Linked DNA regions of Homo sapiens: region 1 is linked to region 2. Evidence: fine-mapped expression QTL. A gene starts in region 2. The other region holds a variant in brackets. All regions are shown on one strand. Distances are from middle to middle. Region 1 overlaps TTC38 (tetratricopeptide repeat domain 38). Region 2 holds the start of TRMU (tRNA mitochondrial 2-thiouridylase).

What was found.
Region 1: its variant is fine-mapped to the expression of TRMU in blood mononuclear cells (TOPMed, PIP 0.98).

What each region holds. Positions count from the first base shown.
Region 1 is chr22:46,288,339-46,293,704 of GRCh38, forward strand. TTC38 (tetratricopeptide repeat domain 38) reads left to right here. Exons shown (of 14, transcript NM_017931.4): 11 at 85-250; 12 at 1,064-1,223; 13 at 1,488-1,561; 14 at 4,453-5,366. The coding sequence ends at 4,546. Among named protein-coding and RNA genes, the nearest start is that of GTSE1-DT, 5.6 kb to the right of the region's middle. The variant C/T (reference allele first, on the strand shown) is at 2,140.
Region 2 is chr22:46,333,220-46,338,585 of GRCh38, forward strand. It overlaps TRMU (tRNA mitochondrial 2-thiouridylase), which reads left to right and starts at 2,495. Exons shown (of 11, transcript NM_018006.5): 1 at 2,495-2,627; 2 at 4,560-4,725. The coding sequence starts at 2,546. RefSeq lists enhancers at 2,533-2,752, 2,585-3,084 and a silencer at 2,893-2,942.

The DNA.
Region 1 (5,366 bases), 45 kb before region 2:
GGGAAGCGCCGTGAGGGAGGCCCTTGCACGGGACATGCCCCAGAGCCTCACTCCAGGCCCTGGGTCTCCTCCCCATGTCCTCAGGAGTGTCTGTGGGCCAGCGGTGGCAGGATGTCCTGCCTGTGGCCCGGAAGCACAGCCGAGACCACATCCTGCTGTTCAATGACGCACACTTCCTGATGGCATCCCTGGGTGCACACGACCCCCAGACCACACAGGAGCTGCTGACCACCCTGCGGGACGCCAGCGAGTATGCAGAGGGGCCTTCTCGGGGTGGGGGTCCTCACCCTGCCGAGAGGGTGAGGGGGTGCTAGGGCCATGCTGAGACCTGTTCAGTGCCTGCCCCGCCTGTGAGTGCAGCAGGGGGGATGCCCATGGAGGCAGCTCCCAGGTGTGCACCCCTATAGATGTGCATCCCCTGGTGCAGACCCCCAAGGTGTGTACACCCACAGCTGTACAACTGGTTGCCCCAAGACACAGAGCTGCCTCCATCCCCAGGGTGGGTATGAGATCCGCAGGGTCACAGGGCTGCCTCCCGTGGAGAGGACACAGTGAAGCCCTGAAGCCAGAGACACCTGCTGCTTACAGGCCCTGAGGTCCTGGACGAGGTGCTTCTGTGCTCTGAACCTCAGTTTCCCCATCTAAATCAGGGCGATGCCTGGCAAGAGCTGGTGAGGGCTGACCTGGAGGACCTGGGCTGCCCTGCCCATTCCCTTCCGGGGGTGATGATTGCCTTGGCTTGCAGTGCCAGGCCTTTGCCTGTATTATCAGCAATCCTGACGGTTCTGTTAGATTGGCACTGTTATGCCTGCTTACAGATGAGCAAACTGAGGCTGGAAGGTGGGGGACCAGGTAGCTGGAAGTGGGCGAACTCCAACCCAGCTCTGAGCTCAGTACCCTGTCCTGTCCCCTCGATGGGCTGCCCCGCCTGTCACCTCACCTCATCAGTGTGGCATGTGTCAGGCACTGGACCAGGGACACCTCGCTGAGGAAGAAATGGCTCTGCCCTTCCCGGATGTTCTGTGATGGGCAGGCAGCTGAGGGCACCGTCTTGGGTTCGCAGATCCCCAGGGGAGAACTGCCAGCACCTCCTGGCCCGAGACGTGGGGCTGCCCCTGTGCCAGGCCCTGGTGGAGGCTGAGGACGGGAACCCTGACCGCGTCCTGGAGCTGCTCCTGCCCATCCGCTACCGGATCGTCCAGCTCGGTGGGAGCAATGCCCAGGTGAGCCGATGGCCGCCAGCTGGGGTGCCTAGGGCCTGGGCCAGGGAGTCTGGGCGCCCCGCAGCCCCCAAGTTTCTCCCATGGTGTTGGTGCCAACAATGTGGGTGTGAACGTGTCTCTCACACTCCCGCCGTGTAAGTTCGTCGTTGAGGGTGTGGCATCAACACCACTGTCTCCCTGGAGAGCAGGCAGCCCGCGGTGGGCGGGGGCTCGCCTCCCCCATCCTGAGGTACAGGAGACTCACATGCCCGATTGACATTTCAGAGAGACGTCTTCAACCAGCTGCTGATTCACGCGGCCTTAAACTGCACCTCCAGCGTCCATAAGAACGTAGCCCGGTGAGCTCCTGGCCCCTGCCCAGCACTCCCGACCTTCACAGGCTCTCCCTGCAGACCTCAGGAGTGCCTGGAAGCCCCACCACCCTTGGCCCGAGATGCTCCTGCTTCTGAGGCTGTGAGGTCGGGAGGCTGTGGGGAATTTGGTTCTCCTTTGTTAGCAGGCTCAGTGTGACCAAGTGGAGCCAGCCCCACCCCAGGCCCAACCTCCCACCCTTCCCAGCCCACTCCCTTTTAGCCTTGCTAAGCTACCTGGGTACGTAAACACGTCCTGCTCTTTCAGGCTCCTGGGCCTTTGCACGCTTGGAACACCCTTTCTCCTTTTTTGCACCTGGCCGACACCTAATGCTCAGTTAGACCTCAGCTCATTTCACCTGCCTGCCTGTGCTGGGTACCGAGAGGGAGCAGTGAGCAGGCACACCAGTCACTGGCTACCAGGAGCCCATCTGTAGTCGGGGGAGCGACAGGGAGCAATCAGTCCCACAGACACGTAAACTCGCACTGAGGGAGCAGCAGCTGAGGGCAGACCCGAAACCACAGTGGGTTTAGCCAGGCCAGGCATGGGGCTGGTAGGAGGGTGG[C/T]GTGGCTGGAGGGTGAGTGTTAGGGTGGCATGGCTGGAGGGTGAGTGTGTTAGGGCAGCGTGGCTGGAGGGTGTTAGGAGGGTGGTGTGGCTGGAGGGTGAGTGTTAGGAGGGTGGCGTGGCTGGAGGGTGAGTGTTAGGAGGGTGGCGTGGCTGGAAGGTGTGTTAGGGTGGCGTGGCTGGAGGGTGAGTGTTAGGAGGGTGGTGTGGCTGGCAGGCGAGTGTCAGGAGGGTGGCATAGCTGGCAGATGAGAGTGCTGGGGGAACTCCAAAGAGCCCTCACCATTGCCAGCAGCCTTGGTGCTTCCATGGCCCAGCTTGCCTCCCTCCACTTAGGCTGCTGAGCTCTTGGCCAGCAGCTGCGTAGCCCGTGTGCCTGAGCGGCGAGTTTGACACCTCTCCTTGCCCATGTCCCTGCCACCCTCAGACATAAGTGAAAGGAAGAATAGAGGAGTCATGGGGTGCCTGGTGGGGAAGGTGTGCTGTGAGAGCAGGTGGCAGCCCGGGTCCACAGGAGGCCCTTGGCTGGTGACAAGCCCAGTGGTTTAGGCGCAGGTGCACCAGCGCAGCTCCCTCCAGGCAGGGTTACCCAAACTGAGCTGTACAGGTTCTGTGGTACTCATGAAACAGGTCTGGCTGGCAGCACTGGAACCGCCTAGAACTGTAAAATGTCTTGGACGCATGCTCCCCGCTTTCCCCTTCCATGGCTGTAGACAAAACCATGCGTGTTTCTTTGGTGGTCAAGCCCCCTGGGGAGCTCAGGCTGTGGTGTGGGTGGGAGTTGGTGCCTCTGGCAGCAGCGGTGGGGAAAGTGGCTGTGTGGACAGGAGGGCTGAGGATGGAGCTGGGGTGACATCTGTGGGGCAGTGCGGCAGTGCCGATGTGGCCTTCTGCGGGGCCCAGTGGGGGAGGGCAGGGGGAGAGCAGGCTGCACAGGGAGCCGACTGCATTAGGAGACGTGGAGGGGGCCTTCTCTCCAAGTCCTGTCCTGCTACCAGGCAGCATCCATGGGGCCATCAGCACAGCTCACCAGCCCCCAAGGTGGGAAACCTTCCACCCACAGCCATGGTGCCCCCCACAATGAGTTCCCGGCCCCAGCCCCTTCACACCACCCACGCCCTCTAGAACCACTGTTTTCAGGTGTTTGGGGGCTGTCTTAGTCAGTTTGGGTTGTTATTTTAAAAGTGCCACAGACAGGCCGGGCACGGTGGCTCATGCCTGTAATCCCAGCACTTTCGGAGGCCAAGGCGGGTGGATCACCTGAGGTCAGGAGTTCAAGACCAGCCTGGCTAATATGGTGAAACTCCGCCTCTACTAAAAATACAAAAAATTAGCCGGGCGTGGTGGTGGGTACCTGTAATCCCGGCTAGTCGGGAGCCTGAGGCAGGAGAATCGCTTGAACCTGGGAGGTGGAGGTTGCAGTGAGCCGAGATCGCGTCATTGCACTCCAGCCTGAGTGACCGAGGGAGATTCTATCTCAAAAAATTAAAAAATAAAAGTGCCACAGTCTGGGCGGCTTGCACAGTAGGCATGCACTGTCTCACAGTTCTGGAGGCTGGAATGTCCAGGAACAAGGCCTGGCTGGGTTCAGTTTCTGCTGAGGCCTCTCTTCCTGGCTTGTGGACAGCCACTTTCTTGCTGTGTCCTCACATGACCTTTCCTTTGAGTGCTAATTCTTTCACGTCTCTTCTTTCTTCTTTCTTTTTAAATTTTTTTATATTTTTAGAGGCAAGGTCTCACTCGGTCATCCAGGTTGGAATGCAGTGGTGTGATCACAGTTCACTGTAAACTCAAACTCCTGGGCTCAAGGAATCTTCCTGCCTCATCCTTCCATCGTGCAGGGATTACAGGGGTGAGCCACCACACCTATCTCTTCTTATAAGGGCACTAATCCCATTCACAAGGGCCCCACCCTCATGACTTAATCACCTCCAAGAGGCCCTGTTCTTAATACCATCACCTTGGGCATTTGGGCTTCAACATATACATTTAGCCTGGACACAGACATTCAGTCCACAGCAGGGTCTTTACCTCAAACCGTACCTGGGTCTTCTCTCTTCAAACCTGGGTTTTCCCCACTGCCACCTGTTGTGCCCCATCTCGGGTGTGGCTTCCTGCACTGGAGGTCTGTGCCCTCCCATCCTCACCTCTCCCCAAACTGAGGCCAGGCCTCCTGCCCCTGGGCCTTGGCCCTTGCTGTTCCCTCAGTGCCGCAGTCTAGCCTGCCTGTGTTCTGCCTTGGGACCAAGGGACCACCAGGCCCCACATCCCTCTAGAAGGTTCTGTAACAGGACCTCTGTGTCTGTTTCCACAGGAGCCTTCTGATGGAGCGTGATGCCTTGAAGCCCAACTCGCCCCTGACCGAGCGGCTCATCCGCAAGGCAGCTACCGTCCACCTCATGCAGTGAGCCAGCCTGGCCGCCTCCACCCTGCAGAACCTCAGTGGTGGCGTCACTGCGTCCAGTCAGCTGCTCCACCGGGTTAGGGTCAGGAGACGGCCAGAGCCTGTTTGTTAGGGCTGTTAGAGGGTGATCTTCAGTTTTACAGGAAGTGGGTCACGGGTTAATTTTAAATGTGATTCCGAATCTCCTTTCAGTCCTCGAGAAGGGCCAATGAGCATTTTTCAGCAGTCACAGCCAGTGTGAGTGCTGCTCTTTCCACCTGCCTTGCAAATTCTGTTTCCCAGGGGAATGTGTCTACTGCCTGGTGGTTCAAAGGTTGGAAGGCAGGGCAGAGGTGGGGGCTGATTCTGCTGGGACAGGTCTTCCAGAGGCAGCCTCCCCCCACTGCCTGTCCCCGTCCCCACCAGGCTGCCCTTGGGATGGACCTTTTCATTCTTTTCTTTATATTCTAGACAGTCTCTGTTGTCTCATTGTGTTGCTGTCCCATTTTTCAGGTGAGGGTACCGGGGTAGGGGAGTGGCCTGCCCAGGGTCACACTATGAGAGGCCCCCACCTGCTGCCTTTGGACGCAGCCCCCTGCTGCTGCATCCACCACCCTTCTTACAGATCAGCGCGCACATGGGGTCCTTCTGCTGTCTCTGGGGCGAGTCTTGGAGCCCCCTGGGGGGCTCTGTTGGTGCTGATTTGGACCCGTTTCTCTTTTTAAACTGCACATCATAACAGGGCTTCATGTCGAGCATGATTTTAATCATAAATGCACTTCTGAGGTGCAAGGATTGAGCTCAGAGCTGCTCTGTTGTGGCAAAACCCAAAGTGCTGTGATGTG
Region 2 (5,366 bases):
TCACCCTGGCAATGTAAATTGATAGCTTATCTTCACAGATGCCAGACAATGGACAACTCACCATCAGTCCTCTGCTCACCTGAGACAAATGCATGTCTGATTGCTTCCTCTGCCCTATTGTTTATGTGAAAATGCAGATTCACTGAGCCAGACTAAGGCATCAGTGACTGTTCCTCTACCTGCCTCTCACATGGAGATTGTGTATTCAGTGAAAGGCTGATCAAAGACCCAAAGGAATGCAACAGTTTATCTCTTATCTACCTATGACCTGCGAGCTGCCCACCACCCCCAGTTGTTGCGCCTTTCCAGACAGAACCAGTGTACATCTTACACGTATTAATTGATGTCCTGTGTCTCCCTAATATGTATCAAAGCAAGCTGTGCCTCGACCACCTTGGGCACATATCCTCAGGACATCATCCTGAGGCTGTGTCACTGGCATGTCCTTAACCTTGGCAAAATAAACTTTCTAAATTGAAACCTGTCTCAGGTACTTTGGGTTCATACCACAAGGGAGGGTTCTCATGCACATGTGCCTAATAATAACAACTATCACAAAAGACTGCAAAAACCACAACTTTACACAAAGGCTATCGTAACCTTCCTCAAAAAAAAAAAAAAAACAAAAAACTTCTGTTGCAAGGACATCTGCCCAGCAACTGCTTGTCCAACCCTGGAGTGCTGTCACCCTTGTTATTGATCTTTGTAGCCAAAGAATTATCTCAAAACAATGATGTGATCCTCATTTTCCCTTTAAAAACCTTTGTCTTCCTAGGCCGGGCACTGTGGCTCACGCGTGTAATCCCAGCACTTTGGGAGGCCGAGGCGGGCGGATCACAAGGTCAGGAGATCAAGACCATCCTGGCCAACATGGTGAAATGCCGTCTCTACTAAAAATACAAAAATTAGCTGGGTGTGGTGGCATGTGCCTGTAATCCCAGCTACTCCGGAGGCTGAGGCAGGAGAATCGCTTAAACCCGGGAGGCGGAGGTTGCAGTGAGCTAAGATCACGCCACTGCACTCCAGCCTAGTGACCAAGTGAGACTGTCTCAAAAAAATAAATAAATAAAATAAAAACCTTTGTCTTCCTTTACTTCCCTGAATACCCACATAGCTTATTGTGGCATGCATATTCCCATTGCAATGCCCTATTCACAAATGAACATCTTTTTCGTTCAGAGTCTCCCTGTGCTTTAGGTAGACCTTGTCTAGATGCTAACTCGTAGAGAAGAACTCAGCTTGAATATCACCCCTGGGGGATGACCTCCATTCTCTCCTCCTTCCTTTATTCAGCGAGGTTATGAAGCACCTGCCCTGGGCCAGGGGCTTTTCTGGGCATGGAGTAGGAGTGGACAGAACACAAAACCCCTGTCCAACACACCTCACAGACATTAAGGATTGAGTGCTGAGTATGCTTGGAGTCAAACTGTAAAAGATTTGAAGATATTTATTCATGTCATAGTCCCAGGAGATCCTGAGAACACGTGCTCAAACTGGTGGTGCTACAGCTTTTGGTTTCGTACGTTTTAGGGAGACATAAGCCATAAATCAATACATGTAAGATGTAACATTGGTTCCGGAAAGGTGGGACAACTCGAAGGTGGGGTGGGGCTTCCAGGTCATAGGTGGATTCAAAGATTTTCTGGGCCGGGGGCAGTGACTCACACCTGTAATCCCGCCACTTTGGGAGGCTGAGGTGGGCGGATCCCTTGAGGTCAGGAGTGAGAGACCAGCCTGGCAAATACGGTGAAACCCCGTCTCTACTAAAAATACAAAAATTAGCTGGGCTTGGTGGCGGGCGCCTGTAATCGCAGCTACTAGGGAGGCTGAGGCAGGAGAATCGCTTGAATCTTGGAGGTGAAGGTTGCAGTGAGCCGAGGTCGCGCCCACTACACTCCAGCCTGCGACAGAGCAAAACTCCATCTCAAAAAAATTTAATTAATTAAAAATTAAATTAAATTAAAATACTGTAAAATACTTCGATATCTTTCAGGGCCTGCCATCTGTCATGTCGGTATCCTATTGCTACGGAGAGTCCGCCTAGACAGTCTTAAGTCTGTTTTGACGTTAATGCTGGTCCGAATTCCAAAGGGAGGAGGAGGGTCTAGTGAGGCGGGTCCCACCCGGCCTTTCCCATCAGAGCCCGAACTCGCGGTTCAGGTTCCCTCTAGGACGCCCTTGGCCGAGAGGAGGCCTCCAATGGCTGGCTGGGGGGCTTAGAATTTTATTTTTGGTTTACAGCGCAGAAGAAGAGCAGTGAGGCCGGGGCGCGGGTGGGGAGGGCAAGGCGGCGGCTCAAAAAAAAAGCCAGCCCCTCGCGGCCCGACAGAGTCTCGGCGCCCCGCGGGTCGGTGGAGCCTCAGGGGTGAGCGCAGGCCGGAGACAGGGGAACCCGCCGCGGGACAGGGGAAGGCCGGACGGAACGCGGGTAAGCTGCCGCAGCTTCCGGCCGGGCCACTAGCGCGGACCCTACGGCCGGGGCGGGACTTCCGGCAAGGCGCGGAAGCGGCGGTAGCTGCAGCTGGCGAAGTTGGGCGACTGGCGGATGCAGGCCTTGCGGCACGTCGTGTGCGCCCTGTCCGGCGGCGTGGACAGCGCCGTGGCCGCGCTGCTGCTGAGGCGGAGAGGTGAGGCGTCCGAGGCTCCCGCCCCCCGCCGAGCGAATGTGTCCCCGGAAACCTGTCCCCGTCCGTCGTGGCGTTGTGCACGTCTCCTCCCTCCCTGGGCCGCTGGTTGCGCGCGGGTCGGCAGGAGGATACCCCGTCCTCTGACTTTGGTTCGGAGGCTCCTCGCCCTCCACCTGTGTAGTCGGAGGTGTGCGCGACTGCAGCTCCGACTACCTGGGAGCAGTTCCGCGCCCCTCTCCACCCACGCGCGCCCACCCACAGTGAGAAGCCGGCGGGCCGGGGTGGGGTGGGGAGGGAAGGGTTTCTCACGGATCTGCGGCGTCCACATTCACCTGTGAGACCGTGGACACTGGTGAGGGGAGCTGGGATCGCCGGGCCGGGGGCCTGACCTCTGCACACGCTGTGGCCGCCCGGTGGGAGGTCCTTGTCCTCCCCACTCAGCAGACTGGACAACTGCCGCGCGGCGGGTCTGCTTGTTCAGCGTCTCCTGTGTTCTCCGCTCGCTGGAGGACAAAGTTTTCTCCAGGAGCATTTGCATTTCTTCCGGCATCTAAACGGAGCCCCACGGGTGCTTAGCATTCCTCGGGCCCGGCGCTGAAATGAGCACTTGTTTAACTTCACCTGTGTGGCTCCCCGCGGGAGGCCTCATTCACAGAGTCACGTTTGTGGAGCTCTGCTTTGCGCCATCTTTGGCTCCTGACCTTGGGCAAGTGAATTAAGCCGTCCCCTGTAAAATTCGGCTAACACCTGCCTCACGGGGTGACTGGAGGGATTAGATGACATAGTACATACTGATGAGTACGTGCTCAGCACATACGAGGTACGCAGAAAACAGTAGTGGCTATTAGTTTATATTGTTAATAACCATAGCTATTATGGTAGGTACAGTAAGTGCCAAAGAGAAGGGTAGGCGGACCATAAGCAGAAATAGTTGTGAGGAAGGGAGAGTGGAGGAAAGCATCCTAGAGATGGAGGTGCTCAGCTGAGTCGAAAGAAGAGTAGGATGTCACTAAGCAGAGACTTGGAGGTGGAGGCGGCCCTCCCGGCACAGTCAGCAGTGCAAGCAGAATCACAGAGGCCTGCAAGTGTGGGCTGGTTCTGGCCAGATGGAGATGGAAGGAGAGGAGCCTGGAGCACGTTTAGCCCTGATTATGGAAGATGCTATACCAGGGGCTTTAGACTGTTAGGTAGACATTAGTCTGGTTGATCTGGGATAGGGGTGGTCTTTCGCGTGTGGTGGTGTAGTTTTGACAAAGCTTTGTCATCAAATTTCTGTTGTTTTGGGTACTATATGAAGCCTTCTTCAGCAGTCATTTGCCCTGTCTTTCATTACATTCAGCCTACCTAAACGAACCAGCTTTCTCATACAGGGTCTGCACCTGTGTAGTTTGCTAAGGTGGTGTAGGGCTAAAGTTGGCCTTTCCAATATTTGGGTGAATATTTTGTTACAATCGAAAAGGTAGAAAATAGGTCATAAACTAGGTGGTACAGCTCTTACAAAATATCGAAAATTTTAATTATCTTTATATCTGATCACTTAGAATCTAAGTCTTAGATAGTAACTAGAAATAACTTTTGAAAAGAGTTTCCTTTTTTGATAACTGAATGGTGCTTTGAAAAATTTTGTTGAGTTTCGACTATTCCTTCGTGTATTCCACACACACTGGCTGATCCCCTCCTGCTAGGTATTGTGCTGATACATAGATGGGGACACAAAGATGAGAAAATACCACCTCGTTAATCTTGGGGACTCAGGCACCAAGATGGAAACCGGATCCCTGAAGCCACATGGCAAAGCAGGGACTGCCCGGCAGGCCAGGCACAGAGGCACAGGAGCACAGCGTGTGGGGAACTTCTCAGAGCTCAGAAATCACTGCCGTTTTACCGAAGGTTGATTTATGTATTCTCTTTAATTGACCTTCCCGCCCGCAGGTTACCAGGTGACAGGGGTGTTTATGAAGAACTGGGACTCACTGGATGAACATGGGGTCTGTACTGCCGACAAAGACTGTGAAGATGCTTACAGAGTTTGCCAGATCTTAGACATCCCTTTCCATCAAGTGTCCTACGTAAAGGAGTATTGGAATGATGTGTTCAGGTGAGTGCGGGTCACAGCACAAAGGAAGCTTCCTCACACTGTGGATCCTTGCAGTGGAAGGATCCGGTAACCAGCCAGACCGACGCCTGTGCTGCAGCCCAGCGCTCTCCCTCCACGGTGGTGCTGAAGACTGCAAGAGGCCTCAGCCACCCTCGGGGCTCTGTGTTAGAGGCGAGGCCTGGACCCCACAGCACACCCAGCTCTCTCACTCCTGTCATTTTGCCACTTGCCTGAAGTCTCTTTAATGCTTTCTTGGACCTTGAGCTGTTTCTGTTGCCCAGTTAGGATAGGGGAGCTAAGGCTGAGGGCTCCCCTGGAAGGTGAGCACCAATGCCTGTGTGCTATGTGGGTCAGCGATTAGGGGATTTCTGAGAAAGAGGTGATACATGGCCTGTGCCTCTGAAAACAAGAAACAAACAAAAACTTTTCTAAAATCCAATATAATCTCAATAATTAAGTGCTGTGTGCTAGGCGTGTGCCACATCTAGGAACATTAAGATGTCTTCACTGTGACCTGGCTCTGTAGGAGTTTGCGGTCTAGTTGGGAGGACATTATCTTCACAAGAGGTGACAGTGATGCGTGGCACGCAGGAAGTACCAGTGATGCTATCAGTCACTGAACCCAGAGGAGGGAGAAACTT